2 separate regions of the Homo sapiens genome follow, and region 2 is linked to region 1. The links come from fine-mapping of genetic effects on gene expression. A gene starts in region 1. The other region holds a variant in brackets. All regions are shown on one strand. Distances are between the middles of the regions.

Region 1 (2,923 bases):
ACTTGGTTTTAGTTCACAATACCGAGGATTGTTTTTTTCATACTTTCACACATGAAACTTGCAAATTAAATGGAATCACAGCAAACTTCACTCAGACTTACTGTGAATATTTTCTATAATTTACTTTTCAATCATCAGCACTTAAAGTTTGGGGTCATAACCAAAATAAGGATTGATTTTGTTATCAAGAGCAACATAAGTAACATATCTGAGGAAAAATTATGATGTTAATCAGTTAATATGGTATCATATTAACCTCTACAGAAACTGTGAAGTTAAGAGCATAATTCTTAACTAGTCACGAGTCTGAGGCCAACTTCTCAAAGTAGCCTATAAGGCCTGTCCACAACACAAAACACAGTTTAACACCGTTATCAGCCTCTGCCCAGGTGTGCTCAGAGAACCTGCAGAAGAAATGTCCACTTCCAACATTATTAAATAGCACAGCATTTCATAATTACTTTCTTTTCTTCCAGATTCTGGGCAAGTTTTATATATTATATATAATTATAGTCAGAATACAACGATCTGAGGTAAACAAAAATTAACGTATACAGATAAGAGCCAAACAAATGTAAGAAATTTGTGGGAAAAAACACACAGCATTTGATCAGAAATGCAACTTTTTTTCTTTGTCTGAATTTAAAGAAAGTAACTAGAAAACAAGGTGGAGGAAATACTAGAAATATTTTATGTACGTTTAAAGGTTTTTATGTAAATTAATTAAAGGTGTATACTCAAAGAATGTCAAAGTATGTTAAAGTCATCAAGCCAAATTAAAAAAACAATACTACGATCCTCTGAATAAATAAACATACACGGTTCGCCTGCTACAGCCATACATTTTTCAGTTCCTCTATATTCGGGAAGTTTAGTGTGTTTTTCAATCCGTGAGTTGAAAAGAGGAAGAGGTCATTTGGTCGTGTCTGGATTCCTGAGCTGGGCCCCAGCCGGCTCTGGCGCCCTCCCCGGGGTGCGCTCCGCCAGCCGTGCGCCTCCGGAGCTCTGCCCAGGGGACCGCGGCGGGTGCGTGGCTGGGTAGGCCCACCTGACCACAGCCGCGCGCACCCGGAATGCGGAACGCGCCGCGCCCTTGCACCCGGCCGGGGGGCGTGGGGAGCCGCAGGCGCTCCGGGAGCTGGGGCAGTCCCGCCCTTCCTAGCCTCCCGAGTGCCTGCTGCAGAGCGCAGGGCGGCGGCCACCTGACCACGCGCACAAACAAGAAGGCGCAGCAGCCGCAGGGGCACCGCGCCTCCCTGTCGCCCGGCCAGGGAGCCCCCTCCCCAGGGTCCTCTTACCTGGACCTCCACGGCTCCCTCCTACACCTCCGACCGCCGTCACCCACCTACCCCGGAGCCCTCAGCTGCAATTCTCAGCTGATGGGCGGTGGCGTGGGGACGCCCAGTGCGCATGCCCGCAGCACAACTCAGGAAGAAGGCGGGGTTCACCCCTTTTCTATTGGCCCGCGGGGCTGAGTGACAGCGGCCCTCACCGCCCCTCCGGTTCCAAGCTAAGGAATGGGGGTATCAGCAAAATTGCAAGGGAGCTGTTCTTTGAAGCCTGACGTAGAGATGGTGAACGCCTCTTAGCCTGCGTGCAAAAAAGGACAGAATGGAGGACAGTTGTCTTCTTTATCTGGTGAAGCCAGCCTTCTTGCACGCGGGTCTTCACCCCGCCCCATTAGCTCTTGCCTGTCTTGTTTGCTAACCTTTAACTGCAGTAGATCGCGTTGACAGCTCTATCGAAAAATGCAAAGGCGAGTACACAATCCTAGCAGGAACAATGAAGGAATAAGTGAAGAGTCATCTCTGGGTGCTCACTTGTAAACAAGTTTTCCTAGTACATACAAGTCATTCTAAGCATTCCTGAAAAGCAGGGCGTAGTTTTCACAGGGTTTAAAACAAGCAGAGACAGTTCCAATGATAAATATGCAAATATATTGTAATTGTTAGATGAAAAGCATCAATTGCTACAAATGAAAGAAAGCCCTCTCCAAATTAATTAGAAGATAGATTGGCTTAGCCTTTGCCTATATTAAGGCAACACTATTTTCTAAAATGATTACCCGGATAGGTGATATCAAAAGTCCAGACGCACTTAGGTGGAAAAAAACAAAACCCAGGATAGAATTCTGATTGGAACTCACCAACACTAAGTGTGGAATGTTGTCTGCTTAAGAGAGATGGACAGAGAAAGAATAACCCTGAAAACGAGTAACCCACAAGATAGGAAATAAACCAGGAAAAGGTAAACTAGAGAATGAAGGAAAAAAGGAGGGAATTGTCCATGATGTCACCTGTTACACAAAGTTCAAGTAAATAAAGAACTGAAAGTAGTGCATTGTACTTGAGAATTAGGAAGTGGCTGGTGAACGTAGGAAGAAACATTTCAATCATTGAAGGAACACATGAAAGGATCTTACATCCATGTGAGGTTTAGTGCACTTTCCAAATACCCATTCATATTACCTTTGATAGAACTCTGGGCTCCGGGGAGGGAAGGTACAATGCACTACAGAAGAACCTGAGATTAAGTGGCCTCTTCAAGTTACCCTGATAGTTACTGACTATGCTGGGCCCAAAACTTAGCTGTCTGAGCCCTCATCTTGGGCTCATTCCAATTCCTTGTTTTAAAATATGTTATGAGTGGATTCCTTCCAGGTCTTTTGAAAACTTAGAATAAGATTTCATCCTTTGGTATTCAAATGGGAAAAAAAAGAATTATAGTCTAGACAAACTTGCAAAATTTAGAAGTATTAAGATAAATGAATTACTAAGAGTTCCTGACACAGTATTCCATCTGTGAATCTGGCTGCTACCAAGTTAAATTCAGCCAGGTGTCTTGAAAGTGGTAGGGCTTTAAAAGTCTCCTAATTTGATGAGTGATAATGTCACATCTCCCAAAATAAATCATTTCCATGTGC
Region 2 (2,923 bases), 55 kb before region 1:
AATGAAAGTGAGGAAAATTCTGAGGCTTCCACTTCACGTGGTTTGAACTGTACATCTCAGTGTTTGTTTCACAATTATGCTAGACTGTCAACTCACTTCTCTTTCTAGAATGTCCTCTGCAGTGCAGGTAGACCAGAAACCACACTTCCCACAAACTCCTTCTGTCTCTGGTTCTAAGTTGAGAGTTGACCATGAGAAAAGGAGAGACCATCTTTCCTCAGAGGCCACTGCAGACAGAAGTGTAGGCGGGCAGAGGACATGAGTTTCACAGCAGTTTCAAAATCTCTTGCAAGGCACTGGCTTTGGAGCTATTAACAGCTGACAGCTGGGGACAGCTCCCTGAGACACACTGTCAGTGCTGCACGCCAACAGCACAGCCTTCTGGATGTTCTCAAGAGTCACAGCAGTGCCTGGGCCAGCTCCTGAGATCCACCCACTTTGGGGCCGCAGACACCTTCCTCACCCACCCTTTTGATGTCTAATTCCCTATGTTAAAACACTTTACACTTATAATCCATCAAGTGGTTTCTGTTTTTCTAACTGAATTGTTAAAATATGCAAAATTCACATTAAAGAAGTTTCCTACCTATCTTGTGACCTCAGTGAATGAGATGCTGCTTTATCCAATCTACTGACTTTGGAAAATCCAGCTGAAATGAGGAAAGATAATCGTGCATGTCTGGCAACCAGGTAATTTCTTTCCTATCTTTCATGTCACAGTATTTTGAGGACACAAATTCCTAAATACTCAGAAAAAAATGGTTTTATCTTAATTGATTTATAAATTATGTTAGGGTAGTTGTTAAACAGAATTTTGTCAAAGAAGCAGTACACTGTAACACTTTCAGGCTCCCATTGGTTTAAAATTTGATAAGTGTATTTCTTTGCTGACAAGTCAAACTGTTCAAATGTTATGGAGGACTAAAAAGGCCTGGGATTCACAGGCTCATTTTTTGTTTTAACTGAATCATGAAAATACACAACTTTTTTTTTTCCAGGAAAGACAGATGTTATTTACCACCAATGAATTTTTATCATATTTAAATGAACTTGAAAATGTCATTCAACTCAAATCCCTCAATCAACTTACTTCAGCCCATTCTGAAACTTCATATTGCAGCAAACCAGCCATGTGAAAGAAATAAATTCAATTTTGACTTTCAAAAAAAATAAATGCTGCATAAGTTACCCTTGTGGACCTTAGCTATTAAGGTGGACAATGACTTTATTTTCTTTACGTAAGTTTTATATTTTATTATGACATTCATTTTTTCTACATGAAGACACAAATAAAAATTATACCAACTACATAAACTATTTTGTACTTTCCTTGCTAAACCACAGATGTATTTCATGGAAAGAGGGGCCTTTAAAGGCACTTATTTATCATTGTAGGTGTGTCTAAACAATTGATATTCAAAAACACAACTTTTTGTGTACAAAATTTTACAATTTTTAACAAAAGCAGTGAAGACACTAAATAACCCAGTGGCGACCTCTTCAAAGTGCAGTGTCCTTGGTCACCAATGCAGATGCTACTGGGGCAGCCAGCGGGCTCAGAGGGTCCAACTCCAGACACTGCATCCATGGCTGTCCTAGACTGAGTTGCACTTGTA[A/G]AAGAGATGGTCCCACACCTACTAAAAAAACAAGCTACTCTAGTATCAATATGACATCACTCTTTTACCATCAATCATATTGCAAAACCATAGTATTTAACGACCAATAAACAGCCAAATACCTAATGCCACATTGTCGTTCAATTTACCTGGCTGGTTAATATCAGTCTGTGTTTGAGTATTTCTTTTGAGCACACAAAAACAAATGTATAGTCACTTGATGAGGAAATTCTTCACTTTGACTCAAATGGATTCACCATGCTGTCAGTTATGAAAACAACTCTAATTTTAATCTCCACAGGGCAACCTTCACTTTTCACAGCAGTTCTAAAACTGACCTACAGAAAAGTTCAAGATTTTTTAAAAAATTTGGCTACCATACTATGTTTCTTATTTAATTTTCTCTAATCAATACTACTCTTACGTTCCAAATATTTCATGGGAAATTTTTCCCTCAAACTTAATATGTTTCTTAAACAAATTGAAGCCACTAAAGTTCCTGTTTAAACCACTGATAACTGCCCCAGTTAAAATAATAATAATTTAAAATGATTACACTTCAAATAAAGGTACTAAAATCACGCCCCCCAAATTTGTAAGCGCTTTTGTTGTTATTGGGTACTCACTGTGAATAGAAGTAAATGTACTTGACCTGTATGAGAATAAACATTTTATCAAGTACAGCAAAAAAAACGGAACTGATTGTGAAAGCCATGGGGATGGGACTTTAAAACAGCGGTAAGACGCTGGTTTATCACCAGAAACCTCATGTGCCTCTGTGCACTTGAAGTAAAGACCACATTTGAGCAGGCCTGGTGGGCTGGCACAGGCCTCAGAACAGGTGCTGTTTGTGTGAATTCTCCTCCCTGCATTGTCCATTCTGTTCTAGGGCAGTCTGATTCTGGCAACAGGAGTCTCTAAGTTCCAATCACTCACTCACAAAAGAGTTTTCTGTAATCCCTTTTGTGGAAAAAAATGGAGTTTTTCTGATATGCAAAGCAACTTCTACCAGTCTGACAAAGTAGGTAAAATCGATGACACCCTAAAATAAAAACCTGGAGTGAACTGGTGCTCCAGAAAGATGCTGAATGGCCACAGTGCATGTGGTGATGTCTCCATGCTGAGGTTTCAGGCAGCACAGCACTAAGTATCAGGTGACCTGTGGTCCCACCAGAGCATAGTCCTCATGAAATAGGCCTAACCAGATACCTTTTAACTCATCTTTATTTTGGTTGCAAAGATGTGGTTTACTTAGCTACTTACTATTTGTTCCCATTTGAAGTCTCAGAGCTTGCCAAGTTAAACAC

Evidence for each region. PIP is the estimated chance that this variant, and not a neighbour inherited with it, causes the effect.
Region 2: its variant is fine-mapped to the expression of STX7 in whole blood (TOPMed, PIP above 0.99).

The regions. Positions count from the first base shown.
Region 1 is chr6:132,511,709-132,514,631 of GRCh38, forward strand. It overlaps STX7 (syntaxin 7), which reads right to left and starts at 1,408. Exons shown (of 10, transcript NM_003569.3): 1 at 1,299-1,408. RefSeq lists enhancers at 656-1,157, 1,515-1,714 and a silencer at 875-1,364.
Region 2 is chr6:132,456,691-132,459,613 of GRCh38, forward strand. STX7 (syntaxin 7) reads right to left here. Exons shown (of 10, transcript NM_003569.3): 10 at 1-2,923. Among named protein-coding and RNA genes, the nearest start is that of STX7, 55 kb to the right of the region's middle. The variant A/G (reference allele first, on the strand shown) is at 1,617.